Linked DNA regions of Homo sapiens. The protein of the gene in region 1 interacts with the protein of each later gene in a pairwise test. Each region holds a gene or a part of one and is shown on either strand. Other genes may lie near its edges.

Region 1 (7,033 bases):
GGAAGAAAAGTGGTATAATTAGAAAAATAGACCCAGAGGTGGTTCACTGCAGCATTGAGGACAAATGAAAGGAGAGAGACCCATGAGGAAGTACTCTGATAGCAGAGTAGTATGGAAAAAGTGCTCTGAGAAATATCAAAGAATCTCACCTATTTATGGTTCGAGACTAGGATGGTGGTATGTTCCACCTTATCACGAAGTTAAGCAGATCTTTGAAACCTGGAACTGAATTTGACGGTAGCACTGTTGTAAGAATGACTGCAAACAGAATGCCCGTGATTGTAAAACATGGAATTCATCTACCACCAGGTATTCATGAGAGATCCTAACCCATACATGAAATGCAGGGAAAACCTTCACTTACCAAAGGAAAAATGTCTCAATTTTTTTTACTTCTTCCCAACCCATAAAGAATATTTTGCTTCCTGTGAAACAATGATAATGGCAAATATGATTGAAATGTAATCTGAGAACATTTCTTATTTAAAATGTATCTTTATTCTTTTAGGCCTCTTTTTCGTGGAAGTTCAGATGTTGATCAACTAGGAAAAATCTTGGAGTAAGTAATAATTATAATTTTACACCAGTGTCCATAGCATTAAAACATTTACAGTGACTTTCCTCTGACATGCATATCATGTGTTTATCTCTTGTCTTTCTTACTTCAAGCAGCTGCTGCAGACAGTGTTACTATTTGTGTGGTGAGTGGAGACATGGTAGAAGTGCCGTTTTATGCAGAGCCCTAACTGCTCTGCTCTGGAAGCTTGTATGTTGCTTGTGTGGATCTTTTTGCTGCTCCTCTTTCTTCGTGTGGCTGAGCTCCAGTTCTTTTAGTTCAAATACATTTTCTGCTTGTGGTCATTTCAAAAGCACCCACCATCAGAGATGGGATGCCTGGTGACCAAGTACCCATCCTTGTCCAGTGAGCTTCCTGTCCCCACTGAGTATCCTTGGTCACCCAGGTTGGTTCTGCGTTGTTTTGTTTTGTTTTCCTGGGCGAAGGATGGTATGCTACACATCTCATTTTTCTTTGGAGCACCAAAATAGAAAATGAGAACCCTAAGTCTTTGGCAAAATAACTCTGCAACTTTGAGAAAGTCATTTAAAACACCTCGTGAAGGGCTTACACAGTGCCTGGCACATAGTAAGCACTTTAAAAAGTTATCTATTACTGTTACTATTAGAGTTCATCATTAATTATTTAACCTTTTATTTCCTTAACTTCATCTGAGAAATGAAACTCTGACTTAAATTCTCTATAAGATCCTTTCTTGTGCTCAAATTCTTTGGTTTCAGTTACATCGCTCCTTGATGATTTACATAGTTTCATTCATGTCTGCATGTTCATGCATGTATGCATTCATGTTTCTAGAATGTAACTGGGGCACTTCTTCTGACAAAGCATGCAGTGTGGCATCCTTTTTTGGTTTTTTGTGTTTGAAAGGCCCATCCAAATTGGAGTGGAGTAGGAAAAAAGTGGGAGTTCTAGACCAAAAATAGCCCTGATCTTTGGTCTGTGACATTTTATAGGAATCCCAGTGATTTTTATGAAATTCGAAGTCTGTAAGACTGAAAAAAAAAAAAAAACCACCCCTAAAGAACAGATTTTCATATCAGCACTGTCTACTCAAGCGTGACTGCTTAAAACAGTTAATAAAACTGGAACCTGATTTTGTTCTTTTAGTGACTAGAAGCAGCTAGACTTCTGTTAATGCCAGTGCTACTGCTGAGTCAGAACATAGTAGCTTTAAGGCCTGAATAACATTTGCTAGTTTTTTATGCCTGGGGGCTTCCTGGGTCCAGGGCAGGTGATGCTACTGCTCCTACTACTGACCACTCTGTACAGTGGATAAATTCAACACAAAGCCTTCATGTTACCCCTGCTTCTGAATGGCAAGTTATTTAATCACTCGATGAACTCCCATCTATTTTTCCCCATGACTGTTGAATATATTTTGTGTGCATGTGATCATAAAGAGGAAACTAGGGAAAGCAGACATACTGATGACCTTCTGTTAAAAGGAAAGAGAATCTTGACTAAAGTCAGCTTGCCAGGACTTGAAAGCCATCACCTTCTTTCCCTTATTTATACTACCTGACAGTTGTGTCTACCTCCAGCACTGATGTCTGCAATCTTGTTAACATTGTTAGTGCCCCCTTAGTACATGAGGCCAGTGAAATGGACCAGAAGGAACATTTGACCGGCATGTTTGACCTGCTTCCAAAGAAAAGCCAGTTCTGCTTTTGGCAAAGTCCTGACAATCGTAGGTTGCCAACAGCAAAGAAGCTGTAGAGTTCTATGGTTTGTGCCTTTAGATTTTACTTTGTGGTTTCTGGCATTGTGTCATCAAAATTATGTTCTGTTTCCTCTGAATGCATTACCTTGCCAGAGAAAAGGGACAATGCTGCACCCTAGCGTCACTGCTGAAGTACTTGAAAAAATATTTCTGTCTCCTCCATCACTGCCATTTATAGATTTTGTGCCCTGTTGGGCTTGCCAATATAAATGTCAACTTTTAAGGCTTATATTCAGCAGTCCAAATAGTGGAATTAAGTGCAAGCATTTTTAATGGACCTATCAGAATTTCACAACACATATTTGGGCCATAAAAGTTCATTCTGGACATGAAACCAAATTTTTTTTAAGGAAAGCCATATTCACATACTCTTTTTTATTTTTTTCTTTGGAGACAAGGTCTTGCCCTGTTGTCCAGGCTGGAGTACAGTGGTGCGATCTTGGCTCACTGAAGCCTTGGCCTTCCGAGCTCAAGTAATCCTCCTATCTAAGCCTCCCAAGTAGCTGGGACTACAGGCACAGGGCACCACAACCAGCTAATTTTTATATTTTTTATAGAGATGGAGTTTCACCATGTTGCCCAGGCTGGTCTTGAACTCCTGGGGTCAAGTGGTCCACTTGCCTCGGCCTTCCAAACTGCTGGGATTACAGCCACCCCACCTGGTCCATGTTCACATACTCTTAAAGGGAAAAACATTTCTGTGTTTAGGAAGATTTAAGCCTTCAAGTAATAGCAAGTATTAAAAGTGAAACAATAGTTTTAGCCTGTGACATCTTAGAGCATTTTTAAGAATGATGTCATAGCTAAATGGAAATAAAATATTGGAATAGAGAGAACGGAACTCACTCTGGACTCTGTGACTGAGCTTGCTATCTGTGACTTTGGCAGTTCATTTTATTCCTCATTCTCAATTTCCCCATCTATAAAATGAGACTAATAACACCTGACTTACATGTCTTAGGAAATTATTACAGGAATCAGAGGAGGTGATAGACTTAAAGTTTTATATATATAGTTATGTGTTTGTTTAAAATTTTATATAAAATTATATAAAGTTATTTGTATATGTACACACATACAAACAGAGATGTGCTGTTCCTCTGAAGGCTTTTGGCATTCAGTTGATCATATACTTGCAAGATGTAATTAGATGTAGATACATTCAAAGCCACAAATAAAAAAGATTTTAAATATTTCTAGGAGTTATTAATATAATCAATTTCTAGCTGACTGGTGAATATACACAAAAATATTGATACACATAGACCTGACAACTAAAAAGGAATGAAAGGAAATTTTTAAAGCTCTCTAACAAGCATTTTTCATTCCCTCCTCTGCCCTGTCCCATTGTATCCAGACACTTACACGTGCATTTCTTTTCATAATTAATAGTGGTATTTTTGGTTTTTTTCTTTTTACTTCTATTGTAGGCTGTACTATTGAACAAATCTATATATTGCTCATTGTCATTTCTATTTATTGCTTCTAGTAAATATGTCCATGAATCTGTCTTTGCCTCAATAATGTAGCTCTCTCAGTATGCCTGATAGAGGCCGAATTACAGTGTCTTCCCCAGACACCCAGGCAGAGAAGCCATGATGACAGGGTTATCTTCCCAGCTGAAGTCTATGGCCTGGGCTCCGTGTAGGTGAGGGAAGGGGAAATGAAGTGCTACAGATCTTGAGACCTGTACCACATCTTCCTGAAATCTGGAAGTACATTCATAAGAACACCTCTTCCTGGGCCTTAGTCCCAACAAGTAGAGGCCAAGCAGAAGACCCTAATGTGGGCCAGCACAATTTCTAACTGTAGTTAAAATTATTTGTTCCAGTATTTGAATAGCTATGTACCCCGTCCACTAAACTATGATTTTATTTTTGGTTCAGAGTTATACAGTCTGTGTGAGAAAGAAGTCCCTGCATCCTCTGATTTTCTCTGTTCAAACCTACTTACGACCTATATGTAAACTATAAATAATATCTATACAATGTATAAGTTATGTAAGTCCATTGACCCATTAATTTTTTAAAGAATCTTAAGTTATACATAGATACAAGCAGTTCATATTTTAAGTGTGGTAGTGATGTATTTCCTATGCATCTTGTATTAATAACATTTTCTAATTATAATAATAGTAGGCAGTGTATTGATTGATAATTGACTGTGTGTGATGTATATCAGGTGCTGTGCTTTGTACTTTAAATTATAAATTTATATATTACTATAAATTCAAATAAAGTATAACTGATCCTCATTACAACTGTAAGTTATTATCATTGTATACATAAAGACACTAAGGGTCATAGATGTTAAGTAATTTGTCCTTACCTGCCAGTAAGTGGCAGGTGCAGGATTTGAACCCAAATCTGCCTATTTCCGAAGCCTGTGCTTATCACTTGCTGTTCTTTCCACATTTCTGATCCCAGAATGGTTTTCAGGGGAAATATAAATAATAGTCTTTTAATTTACTGTTTGCTCACTTTGGAATACCACAGACTTCCTTTTATAAAATCATGTTTGTATAATGCAGGACTAGCACGTTTTAGCCTCATTTTTCCTTCTGATTCTAATGTATATATTTAATATGTAGGGAATTGCTCTTTAACCAAAAATGCAACCAAATTGATATGTTAATAAACCATGTTGGATGAGCATCATAAAATCATGTCAATACTGGGGTGTTCGATCAAAACACAAAAAGCATTCTTGGACATAAAGGAAGATATGTACCAGTATGGGTCTCCTCTGAATACAATAAGTCCTGCTTTGTCACTAAGTCAGAGCTTACTGCCTGGTAATATATTTTCTATTTCTACATCATCCCTTACATTTAGTGTCTGCTACCAGAGCAATCTCTTATCTCCTCCCACTGAATTTTACAATTCTTCTGTGAGATTACCCTCTCCCCCATGGCCACCATATTGCAGTAGGACAGAGATAAACAGAGACCCTGCCAGTGATAAAGTGAAGGTCTCCTGGGACTCTGCCCCCCATGTCTCCCCCTTAGATTTTGCCTTTCTCTGGAAATTGATGAGAAAACAGCTTCTGCATAGTAGCTAATGCTTATGTCCATGTGTGGTTCTTTTGTAGCGTGATTGGACTCCCAGGAGAAGAAGACTGGCCTAGAGATGTTGCCCTTCCCAGGCAGGCTTTTCATTCAAAATCTGCCCAACCAATTGAGAAGTTTGTAACAGATATCGATGAACTAGGCAAAGACCTACTTCTGGTAAGTTTTTCTGATGTCAAGCTCGTCTGCACTGTGCCAGTGAGACACCTGCTCTACCCAGACTGGGTGGTGGGCACAAATATCAGTTCAGTAGCTGCTATAGGCATCACATGCCACAGCCACATGGAGCAGGAGGCAACAGTCCCTCCAGAGGTTTCATTTTCACACTTGTAGCAGCTGGTGGCTTTTGATTCTGGAATGTCTTTCTGATCCACATTTTTTTAAATCTGCCATCTTTGAATGTTTATTTCAATGCAGGTTTAGAAGCCTCTCGATTCACTTTGACATATGTTTCTTTAGAAGTAAATATTATGTTTCCTTTCTTACAGTTTCATGCTACTTTAAGTAATTTGTTTGTCATTTTAACGTGCCTTTTCTTAAACATTCACAACTTTGGGGAGATGTTTTTCCAAAAGAACTATATAGCAATACTTCTTCTAGTTGCTGATTTATTTAATAAGTATTTAGTGTGCCAGGGACATATAAAATACCTCACTGAAAATAAGGACTTCTGTGCTCTGAGACTCTTAATGCTCAACCATATACATAATTTCCTATACTTGGAGGCCAGAACAATAGGTAGAAAAGTGTACCTGTTGGGCTGTTCTTGATGTCTGAAACCCAGTGAGTAATGAGTGTCTGCTTTACCTCCTGAATTAACAGCCTTTGATATCTGCTTCTGCCCGTGGGTGAAGCACAGGTCTTCTCCATGTGTCTCATGCTGGGGCCCATGCCAGAGAGGCAGCAGCTCCCTGGGGCATGTTTTTCTCATGATAGAAGGTATCGATGCTCCAGAAGGGCAAGCAGAAATATGCAATGCCCCTGAAGGTCCATACTTGGAAGAAGTACCCGCCACTCTGCCCATGTTCCATTGGCCAAAGCAAGTTCCATGCCTAAGGCCAACTTGAATGGAGGAAAGAATGCTCCCCCTATGGTGAGAGGGGAGAGAAAAGAGGGAATATGTACTAAAAGTTATCCAATCTACCATAGTATCCAACTCTTGACTAAGTTGTGATTCCAAAAGCTCATTTTATAAGTAAACTATTTGGCAATTAAACTAAATTTTCTTGCAGAAACAATATTATTAACACAAAGTTTTTTAATTAACCCTCAACCTGGCAACCTTGTTCCTGAAGTAGAGCAATAATAGAACTTAAACACCTTTTTTTTAACCATATTTCTATAGGACAAAATGTATTAAGACTTCCAACGTGAGATTCTCCCACACCCCCACATTTGGCTAAGGTGTTCTCCTTCTCTCCACCCTCTTCCCAGCTTTAAGCCATCAGTGTAGCTGTGAGGAAAGGGCTTCCTCTCACATAATCCTCTAGAGACATGTCTCTGTATTGTGAATGTATTCCCACAGCTCTTTTCTCTTCTTTCCTATGTCCTGGAGATTAAATGCCACTACCTAATTTTCTCCTTCTTGGGCTCTGGGAAAAGAGAACTCAGGCTCAGGAATTTTGCCCCTGCTTTCCGGTCCTTTGGGAATTCAGCCCTTGCAAAGCTT
Region 2 (5,368 bases), on another chromosome or scaffold:
AACCTGCACATGTACCATCTAAAAGTAAAAAGAAGCAAATTTAAAAAAAAAAAAACAAAAAAACAGACCCCTCCCCACCAGTCTCCTGGTTCTTTTTGAAGGTGGCTGTGGTCAGACTATTCCAGCAGGTTCCTCAGTGCTTCATGCTGTTCATCAAACCTGGATCCATCTGGACCTACCATTTATGTCATTTATTGTTATAAAAAATAATACATATTCTCTTGACACCTTATAATTAGAGTTCATTTAAGTCCTTTTTATCAACTCCATTAGAGTACTTGTCTGGTGTCGAGAGTTTTGGTAGTTCCAGTATATGTGCTTGTTTTGTTTCTTCCACTGGATCTCAAGAAGGAACAAATTATTTTGGTGTCTTATAGAACAAATTCAGATTGTACTAGATTAGAAGGAATTTATTTTGATGTTATTTTGGAGAAAAGACTTACTTGGGACTTGGGTGGAAGTGGAGTTCATATGGATGGTTTTGTTTTGAATAATTTCTAAGGTCTTTTAGCTCTATCATTTCTTGTCAGTCTCCCACCGCTAAAATATAACTCTATTTACTTCGTTTTTTCACACAGAAAGATTATAGTGACATAGTCTTCCTCTTACTTAAATACATGTCTTTTTAGGATTCTGCCATAGTATTGATTCTGCCATGGCATTTATTATGCCCAGTGACCAAGGCATTAGAATATTTGTGGTACCTTTACCTTTTTAGGCCAATAAATATCATTCATTTGCTAAAGAACATTTCATTAAACGAGGTACAGTTGGCTCTCCATATCCATGGGTTTGGCATCTGGATTCAACCAACCGTGAATTGAAAATATTCAGGAAGAAATTTCACAGAGTTCCAAAAAAACCTGGAATTTGTGGCATGCTGAGTACTACATTGAATCTACACAGATGAAGTGATGTGTAGGCATTCTGTTAGGTATTATAAGTAATCTAGGGATGATTTAAAGTATACAGGACAATGCGAGTGGGTTATATGCAAATACTACATTATTTTATATAAGAGACTTGAGCATGTTGGGTTTTGTTATCTTTTGGGGGATCCTAGAACTAATCCCCCATGGATACTGTGGGATGACTGTACTTATTTTTTAGAAATAATTTCTACACTATAGCCCCTTTTTTACTCCCAGTTTCTTTCATTTTTTTTTTTTTAGGCTTCCTAAAATATTGGCAGAAGCTCCATCCTTTCTCTGTGCTTTGTTCCAATGTTTTTAGCATGTTTCAGCTTGTTCTACATCCCTGGGATATATAATAAGACCTAGCCTAAATGTAAGCTTGATAGTTCAGGGACTATCTTAAGTGTTATGTTAACTTTTTTTCTTTTAAGGGAGGGAGAACAAATTCTAATACTAGTTAATAGTGTCTTACCCACAGTGTGTTATCTAATGCCTTTCAAACTAGGGGAAAAAAATCAGTGAACATTATGGTAGATGCTAAAATCTGCCATTTTCTTGTATATTTCTGACAGTTTCAGTTACTTTGCATTTGTATTATACAATGACTAACATCAGCCTTTTACCATTCTTTCCTCTGGTATTTTTCAGTAACAAATAGTGAATGTATTTAGAGATAAAAATAATTTTGTGACCAAATGTGTTCTTGTAGAGTGCGTTATTTTCCCCTATTTTCTCTGTGGTATTGCAAACAGTCATGGTGAGTGCTGCAGGTTATATGAGGATAAGTAAGACTTGGTACAGAAATGTCCAGAATACTCAAAACTGGAAAAAAGTGATCCCTGATAGTTAAATGGTCAAGATAGGCTTCCTGAAGGTGATGGTGTTTAGCCAGTCCTGGAAGGAATGCGCAATACAATTTCAACAGGTAGAAATAAGATGATTAAGGGTAAAATAAGAAAGGGGAAGATTAGTGCATCATATAGAGCAGGACTGTTGAGCAAGAGTGTAGACCACAAGTTGAGGGTATGCTAGGAAATAAGGCTAGAAAAGAAGGTTGAGATCAGATTATGGAGATTCTTATTAATACTAAACTAAGCAGTTTAGCTTATTTCTGGTAGGCATTGGGGTGCCGCTGGAGAGAGCAGGGAAGGAATATATGATGCTAACTAAGGTTATTTTGACAATGCTGTAATTGAAAGTGAGGAAGAGAGACACTTTACTACAGGTAATAATTTAAAGGCCTTCCATGTACAGTCATTGTGCCAGAAACTTAGGGATAAAAAGATGAATATAATACAATGCCACACCTTTGGTCTTGTAGTCTATAATGGAAAGGCTAAATGGTTAAATAGATTATTATACTGAAATGTGGTAAATACGTTGAAAGGTTTTAGTGTCTTTTTTTTTTTTTTTTAAGACAGAGTCTTGCTCTGTCTGTTGGCCTGGCTGGAATGCAGTGGTTTGATCTCACCTCACTGCAACCTCCACCTCCTGGGCTCAAGCTATTCTCATGCCTCAGCCTCCTGAGTAGCTGGGATTACAGGCATCTGCCACCATGTCCTGCTAATGTTTTGTATTTTTAGTAGAGAAGGGGTTTCGCCATGTTGGCCAGGCTGGTCTGAACTTCTGGCTTCAAGCGATCCACCTGCCTTGGCCTCCCAAAGTGCTAGGATTACAGGCATGAGCCACCACGCCTGGCCATAAATATGTTAAAAGGTTGATATAGAAACAGATGACCGTGGCATTTAGAGTTTTGGGGTGTTGAGGGAGTCAGGGGTAACTCCAGAAAGGATTGATATCTGTGAATTGTCCTGAAGGGTAAGAAGGAATCAGCAAAACTCCCAAATTAAAAACTTTACCAAAAACATTTCATCTTAGTGCTAAGTCTACTATTTTCTACAAAATACATATTTCTAAATTTTTCATTTACTATTTTAAAATTCTTAGCTTCCCTCCTCATCCCTGATTAAAAAAAATTTTTTTTTTGCCCTTTGGCTTCTTACATTTTTAATGAATGTGTTTATGAGTACTTTGGACTCCACTGAAAAAAATTAGAAGAGGCCAAGAGAGTAGGATGAAGGGCCTTCCAGACAGGGGGAATAGACTGAAAAAAAAAAAAAAAAAAAAAAAAAACAGACGTTGGATACAAAAAAGTAGTTTCTGTTCTCATGTAAATGTTCAGCATACATTGCAAATACAAAACTCAAGTTCCAAAGATAATTATATTAGAAATACAGATTTGGACCTAATTTCTAAGATGATGTTGATGGATGGGTAGCTGGATAAATAAATGAGTTGGAGGTAGATGTGGGGAGAGAAAAGACTCAGCGGGGACGGAAAGCACAGGGAGGAAAAATGGCCACCAGAGATAACAGAGCAGCCTATGTTAATTAATGATCAACTGTGTGTGGCTTTTTTTTTTTCCTGGCCCAGATGGATAGCTCCCAGTTGATCCATTGTCGGGAGCTTGTGGCACATCACCTTTCTACTCTGCAGTCTTCCCTGCCTCTGAATTCCGTTTATGTCTACCGTCCCCTCAAGCACACCCTGGTGACCTGTGACAAAGGAGTGTTCAGATTACATCCCTCCTCTGTCCCAGGCCCAGACTTCTCCAAGGACAACAGCAAGCCAGAAGTGCCAGTCAGAGGTACAGCAGCCTTTTACCATCATCTCCCAGCTGCCAGTGGGTGCAAGCAGACCTCTACTAAACGCAAAGTAGAGGAAATGGAAGTGGATGACTTCTATGATGGAATCAAACGGCTCTATAATGAAGATAATGTCTCAGAAAATGTGGGTTCTGTGTGTGGCACTGATTTATCAAGACAAGAGGGACATGCTTCCCCTTGTCCACCTTTGCAGCCTGTTTCTGTCATGTAGTTTCAACAAGTGCTACCTTTGAGTGTAAACTAAGGTAGACTACTTTGGGAATGAGAACATGCAAAATCAGGAAAGGCTGTAGAAGGAAATATACCTTAACAGGCTGATTTGGAGTGAGCCAGAAAAAAAAAATAAAACTCTCATTATTTGTGTGGCTAATTATAATTCAGCGTTATTTAAGCACATAAAGACCAAAAAAAAAAAAAAGAAATCCAAAAGATCCAAACTTTTTTTAAACTTAAAAAATCTCTTTGTAGTATGTCAGTTGCACTTTTTTTCTGCCATAATGTAACGTAGCTTGCCCCGTCAAAAATTCAATTAAAATTCATGGCCAGCAATCCTGTTCCCCCTCAGCATCCTGATTTAATTTTCCTGTTGCTTTTGCTTGCTTCTCCATTTAATAGTTACTGAACTTTATGCATGTTGATCTATATTGATTTTCACTGCAGTTGAATGAACAAATTATTTCAGTGTGACAGCCATGACTCAAGTTCCAATTAGTCTGAAAAGGGTACTTTGGAATTGTCCCATATTAATCAGAGATGGCAAAAGAAAAAGTTCTCATATTACCAGGTTGATTTTGTGTCTCATTTCAAATTTTAATTTAAAATTATGGTTTTCATTTTTGTTTACCTTAAAGTGATGCTTAAAAGTGGCATGTAATTAGGACACTTAGGTTTGTTGAAAGCATTTTCGACATTTGTATAAAAGAATTTGTGATAAATATATCCAGGTGCTCACCAAAGAAACATGTATTAACAACTTAAATTAGATTTTTCTAACTGATAGTTTTCACTCATTTATAATCAGTAGGAGAGACTGTCTAGATGTTGGGGCAGCTCTATGATTTAAGTCTGTAACATGTTATAACTGAATTTAGTACCCTAGTTTTGTTAAGCTATTAGGATTTTCTAATAGAACTTACTCCCCCTGCCTCCCCAGCCTTATGTTTCTTTTAATGACTTCTGGATCCTGAGCTCCCTTTGCAGTCTGAAAAAGGTATTGCAGTCAGAACTGTGTACTGATGATAAAAGCCTCTGGTAGCAATAAAAAGTTGTCCTTAACTTTTGTTTTTGTGACTTTTTTCTGGTTGTGAAGAGGTACAGGTTCCTGATTGGCTAGGCACTGCTATTTCAACTAGAGAAAACAATAGAAAGACCAAGAATACACTTACTGAAAATAAAACATGAAGAGGATCTGAATGTGATCGAGGGATATAGGTTTTAGACATAAGAATTTTTCTTTCGTGATATTTTTTCACTGGTGCACTGTGAATCCTCCAAATAGTAAATTTACATCTTAATGTGACTGCTTGTGAGAGTAGGCTCAGACCCCTATCTTTAAAATGTCATTTTTAGCCATTTTGTAATGTTCAGATTTAGCAGAACAAGAGTATTTTCAGGTCATCATCTGATTTGTAAAAAATTCTTGTGGTAGGGTTGACTTACCTGTTTTATGACCTTAAAATCCAATTAAATGGGAAGCATTTACTCACATGTCAGTAAAGGGAGTGGGAGGGAAGATAGCAAAGGATTGGCTTCACAGATAGACATTTTAAAAATTTCTCATCCTGATCT
Region 3 (6,681 bases), on another chromosome or scaffold:
GTCCAAATAATAACTGCAGTAATAACAAATATTTGAGAGGTTAGTTAGACCTGAGCAAAAGCCTCGTTTTCTTAAACAATGGGGCCTGGTGATTGTCCCACTGTCTGTCATCAGGGATATCCTGACTAAAAGAAGGGACAGGATTGTGTCTTGGTCACAGAGGGATCATCACCCTTCCTCTCTGCATCTACTCCCTCGAGCCATCTCGGCCCTAAATTGCCAACACAGGCAGATCCCATTGGATTTAAGCCTTTCTCCAGTCCCATCAGCGCTAATTGGACACATGGAATCCAGAGGTCTGTGAGTCACACTTTCTTAGGACATTCTCTACAAGTCCAGAGAAATGACCAGAAGGGAAGGGAAAGGAAGGGGCCCTGGGGTCCACCCAGGGCTGATAAAAAGGCCCTAAGCCCTACAAAGGTGGAGGCATCTTCAGGTGTGTGTCAAAGTACGAAGTTAACTGTACAAATTAGTGCAAGTCCAGCAAAACCCTGATTTTTCCCAAGATAATTATTTTGAAACAGTTTAAACATTTTATTTTAGATGTCTTTTTCTTTTTTTTCCCCGAAAGCCCGCTGGCTCCTAGGTTGGCTGTTGCCCTAGGCACAGCCGAAGCCGTCTGTGGTTCTGCACTCTGAGGTACAGAGAAGGCCAGAGCGTCACAGGGAGGCTCAGGACGTCAGGGAGCTGAGGGCCTAAGATAAATAAAGTAAAAACAACCGCTGTTCGAGACTCAAGTCCCCTGTTCTCTCGCCTCACGCGGGCACAGGGAGCCCCCGGGCCGCACACTGGCCAGGGGCGGAGCTGGATCCCGGAGAGCCGCCGTCTCCGCTTCGCCGCCCTTCGCGCGCCCCACTTCAGCCTTTCAGCGTAAGGCAGGAACCTTTTTTCCAGACGGCAAAGAAAGGGAAGACTTTGCCGGAGAAAGAGGCAGTGAAGGTGAAGATGGGCTCCTGGGTCTGGGCGTTGTGGAGGGTCACCTGCCCCGCCTCGTAGTCCAGGGCGACTCTCACGCCGCGCGGGATCTCGCTCAGCGGCAGGTCGGTGCCCGGGGAGGTGCTGGCCCAGCACTGCTGGTGCGAGATGATCACGGCCCAGACGCCGTCCTCGGCGCTGAGTCCCATCTCTCCCTTCCTCCTCACCCCCTCCCCGGCCACCCCCACCGTGCAGCCGCCGCCGTCGCCCAGCTGCAGGTCAACCTGCCAGCGGTGGCGCCCGGAGGAGAAGCCCGGGAAGCCCAGAACCGCCGGGAGGCCGTCGAAGCGCAGGGGGCTGTCTGGCAGGCTCTTCTTCTGCCGGGTGTACCTCACTGACTTCCTGTCTTCCGAGAGAACCAGGCTCCGGCTGGCGGTCTGAGGGTCCAGAGTGATGACCCCTAGAGGGAGGAGCGCGCAGACATCAACAGCGGGCGGCAACCACAGATGTTCCTAGAGCAGGCAACGCACGTGGGAGGCAGAAGGAGTACTGGACTTGGGCAGCCTGCCATTGGGCCACTTCTCTGAACCGCCCTTCTACCTAATCAGCAAGTGGTGCTGTTAAGGATTTGCTTCTCAAAGTGCAGCGGGAGGGACCAGCAGCATCCCCACCACCTGGGTGTTTGTTAGAAATGCAGAATATTGGGCCCCATCCCACCCTACTAAATCAGAATCTGCATTTTAACAGGATCCCTAGGAGACGTTTCTGCATATTAAGTTTGAAAAGCACTTACCTATACCAGAGTGAGTGAGGTGATGCTTATGGAAACAACTTCTAAATTAAGCACCAATTTAAAAATAAATGTGATTTTTAAAAAATTGCACATTTTTTGTTCAAATCAGTAGAGAGCCCAGCACAATGCTCTCAAAAAACTAGGGCTTGATAAGTATTTTTCAACGAGTAATATCTACACAAGTAGATGACATTAATTGAGCACTTACTATGAGTCAGGTAATATACTAAGCTCTTTGCATGTATTAATTTATTTTGTCCTCACAGCTACTTATGGGACAGGTACAGTACTTTTATTTTCATTTTACTGATGAAGAAAATATTGTGGGACAGAGGCTTAATAACTTGCCCAGTGTCTCAGAGCTAGCAAGAACTGGAATCGAGAACTCAAGCAATCAAGCTCCAGAATTCATGCATTTTATTGCTCTGTTTGCTGCCATGGATTGAATGGATGAATGGAAGAATGACTCCCCAAATCCCAAGCTGTTTACCTGAATCTATTTCCAGATGATGCGCCAAGTTTTCTGAGGGAAGCAGAAATAGAAAGAGAGATCTGTGACTTATTACTTCTTATAGGCACCCCCAGGGGCAAGGTGACTTGAGTACAATGTGAAGATGAGGACAGAAGACTCGGCTTCTGCTGTGGTCTAGTGGAGGAGAAGGGTCCTCACCCTCCTGGACTCTCAGTCCTGCACCTGTCCTTAGGGAGTGGAGGAGATGCTCTGGGAATAGTGCCCCTGAATAAATTGAGATCACTAAGGGAAGGCTCTGGGGAGGGAAGATGTCTCGAGCCAGGTTTCAAGGGCAGAGAAGGATGGAGATGGGTGGAAGACAGGAGGGCAGCTAATGGGACTGGGGAAAACTGTGGCGCCTTCCCCTTTACCTGAGAACATCCTCATCATCTCTGGGAGGGTGAGTATTTTCCTGTGGAAATCACGGATCTTCTTGACAAGGTCAGGAGAAATGGCCTCAGGACTCACAAAAGTCTTCATCTCACACCTGCAGACAGGTTTGGTAACCAGTTAGGTCCAAATTCCAAAAACAAATGTTCGGGTGAGACCACGTGAGGCTAAAATCAGACTAAAGAATGATCTTGGCGTCTGTGGTGAATAATGAAATTGAGTATCATTTCTTTACTTTTGCTGGAAATGTGTAGTTACTAAAATAGTAGGCATTTCAGTTAAACCTAAGAGGAACTAAGGATAATCACTTCTCAAGAATTGGAGGTAAGCCCCTTTAGGAGAATGTTTGGTTCTGTAGGGGCTGAGGGACAGAGATCATTACCCCTTTTGGTCTCTAGAGGGCAACAGGGTACCATTTGAAAACAGCCTTAAACTACCCTTGTGTATGCTGCTATTTGTAAAGGAAAAGAGGCTAGAAGGGAAGAAAAAAAAAGGATCAACGAAAATATATATTGCAATGAAAAAAACTCCTGATTCTGGTCCCAGCTCAGTCCTCATTAGACACTTGCTGCATTACCTTGAAGACTCTTCACCCCCTGGGTCTCAGTTTCTTCCTCAGACTGGAAGACCTCCAAGCCCTTCTAGATCTAAACCTCTAATGCTCTTTGAAAAGCATGTTTGGAGACACTTCCTGATTCATGGACCCTGGGTTTATCCTCCCTGCACGGGAATAGGCACAAAGCACGTGACAATTGTTCCCTAGTCACTACACCTCTCTTCATCTCAGTGCAGACTGCTAATGCTTATAGCAGACAGGGAAGGAAAGGGCCATGCATTTACAATGCCACTGGCTCCTGGTGGCTGTCCTTTTACAGTAGCATTAGAAAATTCTGAAGGAAACCAGAGATGTGTGTAAAAAATGAATGAATGAAAGAACAGGCTGGTATTCCTGGTTTCCATGCTTATCATAGTCTACAGAAAGTATTCCCCCTTTAAATTACATTTTAAATGGTGTTAGATACTGACTCAAGTACTAATAATTTCATAGATTAAATAAATGTTCCTGGATCAACCTAAAAACATGATTATTATTTATAACTTCACTTCTAGGGGAAAAAATGTGTCCCCAATACCAACCAATCAATTTAAAAATGAACCTTTAGAACGCAAATCTTTAGTGAGTTTGGACTGTTTGTGCACAGTTGAATGAGACAGTGTGTCTGCCAGAGTGCCTTTGCTTTCCTGGCAAAGTGGGTGGCAGTAAGTGCCCCTGCCCCTTCCCATTCAGTCTTGATGTTGAGTAAAAGGAGGCAGGACCGGGGAGTGGGCCCTACCTGCTCTGGTTGACTCTGACATCCTGCAAAAGAAAGACAAGAACATACATTTAGTTTCCATAAGTCCTTCCTGTCAGGGATTCTGTACATCACTTTTCCCTTAAAATATGAACTCAAAACTCTCCTTCTGCAGAGAGTTGTCCTGTTTAATTACCTACTCATTAGATTGTTCTTTTACATCATGTTTTCTTACTAATTTGGGTTTCTGTAGTCAGTTCATTTGTGCTGGTTTCCCTGTTTCAGCCTTATCGTGGGGGTGGGTTGTGTCTGCAATGATTAGGAGGTGGTAGAGAGCAGGGGCCTGCCTTCAGTTATCAGCTGGACCTGATGTGAGCCAGGATCACATATTCATAACCATAGCAGACACCAGTTATTGAGTTCTTTCTGTATATCAGGAATCATGCCAAGCATTTTTTATGGATTGTTTCTTATAATTTTGCAATAACTTTATGAGGGAGGTGCTATTGCTGTCCCCATGTTTAGAGAGGCTAAGAGACTCACTCAAGTCACACAATTGGAAGAGCCAACATTCAAATCCAAGACTGTCTGACCCTAAACCCCTTAACATGACCACAGTGTATGACTTGGGCAAGTCTCCAGCCCCTCTGGATCTGCACCCCGTTAACCTCTCTCCACTTCCCTTTCCTGCCTCTCTCCAGCCCAAAGCATGGTGCCCACCCCCTTCCCCGTGGAGTCCCTCTCTTATCCTACAAAGTGGTGAAGTGTCTCTCACTTGTAGAAGCTCACTTGCTGGCTGCTGACACTTCTCCTCCAGCTCCTTGACCTGGGCTCCAAGCCGGGTGACTTCCTCAGAGACCTTTGTGATATATTCATCCCTCTCCTTCCAAATCTGCTGCTCCAGCTCCCTCAGCCTGGCCAGCAGGAGACATCGCTGCTGCTCCAGCTCCTGCTGCAGCCTCTCAAAAGCTGTTTCCACCTGATGCTTCTTGCTTTCGATCTGAGTCTTCAAGGGATAAAAGGCAGACATGGTTAGGAAGGGGCTCAGAGATAGCTTCCAGGATGATCATCTATATACTTATTATTGATTAACAGGGATAGGGAGCAACTGGTCCAAGACTCATTCCATTTACTAATATGCCTAGAAGTAGTTAGGTCTCAGGATGAACTTACCAATGATGAGGGCTGTGCTACTGTCTTAGCTAGATACTCTAATAATAATGCTACATTATGCTCTCAGAATGATGTTGAACTTTTCAAAAATATTTCCACAACTACAATACCATCATAACCCTACTATGCCTTCTTAGAGTTAGGTGGGGAAGACTGTAATAATTTCTTAGAGGCAAAAGGAAGTTGTGATTGGAGTCAACACAACTTAGTGGGAGAGTGTGTAATTTTGGTTTTAGCCGTGGAAATCACCAACTACAGGGCATACGTTGATGAGAGCTGAGGGATGGTGGATAGGTTGCTTTGTCCCCACACTCTCTCCTTGGTCAAGGTACCAGAAATCCTCACACTGTGATTCCTCCATAACTTTATAGCATGAAAAGAGAGGCGTGAGGGATCCAGATGTAGCCACACCATCAGCCTACTCTCCTCAAGGTCAGCCTGTAGTCAGGACTAGAATCCCGACACTAACATATGTTTTTGACCCCAAGCTTCCCATCTGAAGGTGGTGTGTTCAGGCAAACAGACTAGGATGGAAAGAACAATGAATTAAGGGTCAAGAAATCCAGGTTCCTCATGAACTTCAGCTTTGCTATGTGGCCTTGGGAGCATTGCTTTTCTGGTCCTAAGTTTTCTGCTCTGTAAAATGTGATATACAAGATGGATCTTGGATTGCAAGACATCAGAACCACTTCTAGTGCTCATGGTCTGAGATCCCAAATGCCTTTGTGCAGCCACAGGAAGGTGAACGAGAACAGTTTGTCAGTTCTTTTCAGCCAGGAAACAGATACCAGCCAACGGGTTTCCCCAGAGTCTCTTAAGAAAACCTTCAAAGGAAAAGGTAGCCAGTGACGTGGCCTGTACCAGCAGCACTTGAAGCTTCTGGTCTTCTTGACACTTTACATCCTCAATCTCATCTCTCTCCGTGCTCAGAGCTTCCAGTCGACTCCTGAGACGATCCTGTGGGGAGAAGAATGGGTGGATAGAGGTGACTGAATTAATAATTCAACTCACAATTATTAACTATCACATCCTGGGCACACTGTTGAGTGCTGAGGGGTTCAAAGGTGGAAAAGGCCCAGTCCTTGCCCTAAAGAGACCACCATCTCAGGAAGAAGTCAATGTCAAGTGATTAAAATACAGATAGATAAATGCAATAGTCCAGGGGTACACACAGTGAGATGGGAACACAGAGGTCAGCTCTGCCTGTAGGCCTAAGGGAAGGTTTGGAAAGCAGAAAACATTTACAATGTGCCTTGAAAGATAAATTTCCAGTTGAATAGAGAGGGAGAGAAAAGGACTTAGTGCCCACAGATGTGAAGGACCTCTTCAAGGAGAACTACAAACCACTGCTCAAGGAAATCAGAGAGAACACAGACAAATGGAAAAACATTCCATGCTCATGGATAGGAAGAATCAATATTGTGAAAATGGCCATACTGCCCAAAGTAATTTATAGATTCAGTGTTATCCCTATCAAGCTACCATTGACTTTCTTCACAGAATTAGAAAAAACTACTTTATATTTCATATGGAACCAATAAAGAGCCCACATAGCCAATACAATCTTAAGCAAAAAGAATGAAGCTGGAGGCATCATGCTACCTGAC

The links.
Region 2: the proteins of CDK6 (region 1) and CCNI interact in binary tests that used the Homo sapiens proteins (3 or more experiments, as listed by UniProt).
Region 3: the proteins of CDK6 (region 1) and TRIM15 interact in binary tests that used the Homo sapiens proteins (3 or more experiments, as listed by UniProt).

What each region holds. Positions count from the first base shown.
Region 1 is NC_000007.14:92,616,562-92,623,594, reverse strand, and holds part of CDK6 (cyclin-dependent kinase 6), read left to right. Parts: intron 1-508; coding exon 509-559; intron 560-5,387; coding exon 5,388-5,523; intron 5,524-7,033. UniProt on the Homo sapiens protein: Serine/threonine-protein kinase involved in the control of the cell cycle and differentiation; promotes G1/S transition. Phosphorylates pRB/RB1 and NPM1.
Region 2 is NC_000004.12:77,046,642-77,052,009, reverse strand, and holds the end of CCNI (cyclin-I), read left to right. Parts: intron 1-3,347; coding exon 3,348-3,791; 3' UTR 3,792-4,855; downstream 4,856-5,368.
Region 3 is NC_000006.12:30,166,526-30,173,206, reverse strand, and holds the end of TRIM15 (E3 ubiquitin-protein ligase TRIM15), read right to left. Parts: intron 6,032-6,681; coding exon 5,936-6,031; intron 4,908-5,935; coding exon 4,677-4,907; intron 3,967-4,676; coding exon 3,944-3,966; intron 2,707-3,943; coding exon 2,591-2,706; intron 2,232-2,590; coding exon 2,199-2,231; intron 1,376-2,198; coding exon 858-1,375; 3' UTR 514-857; downstream 1-513.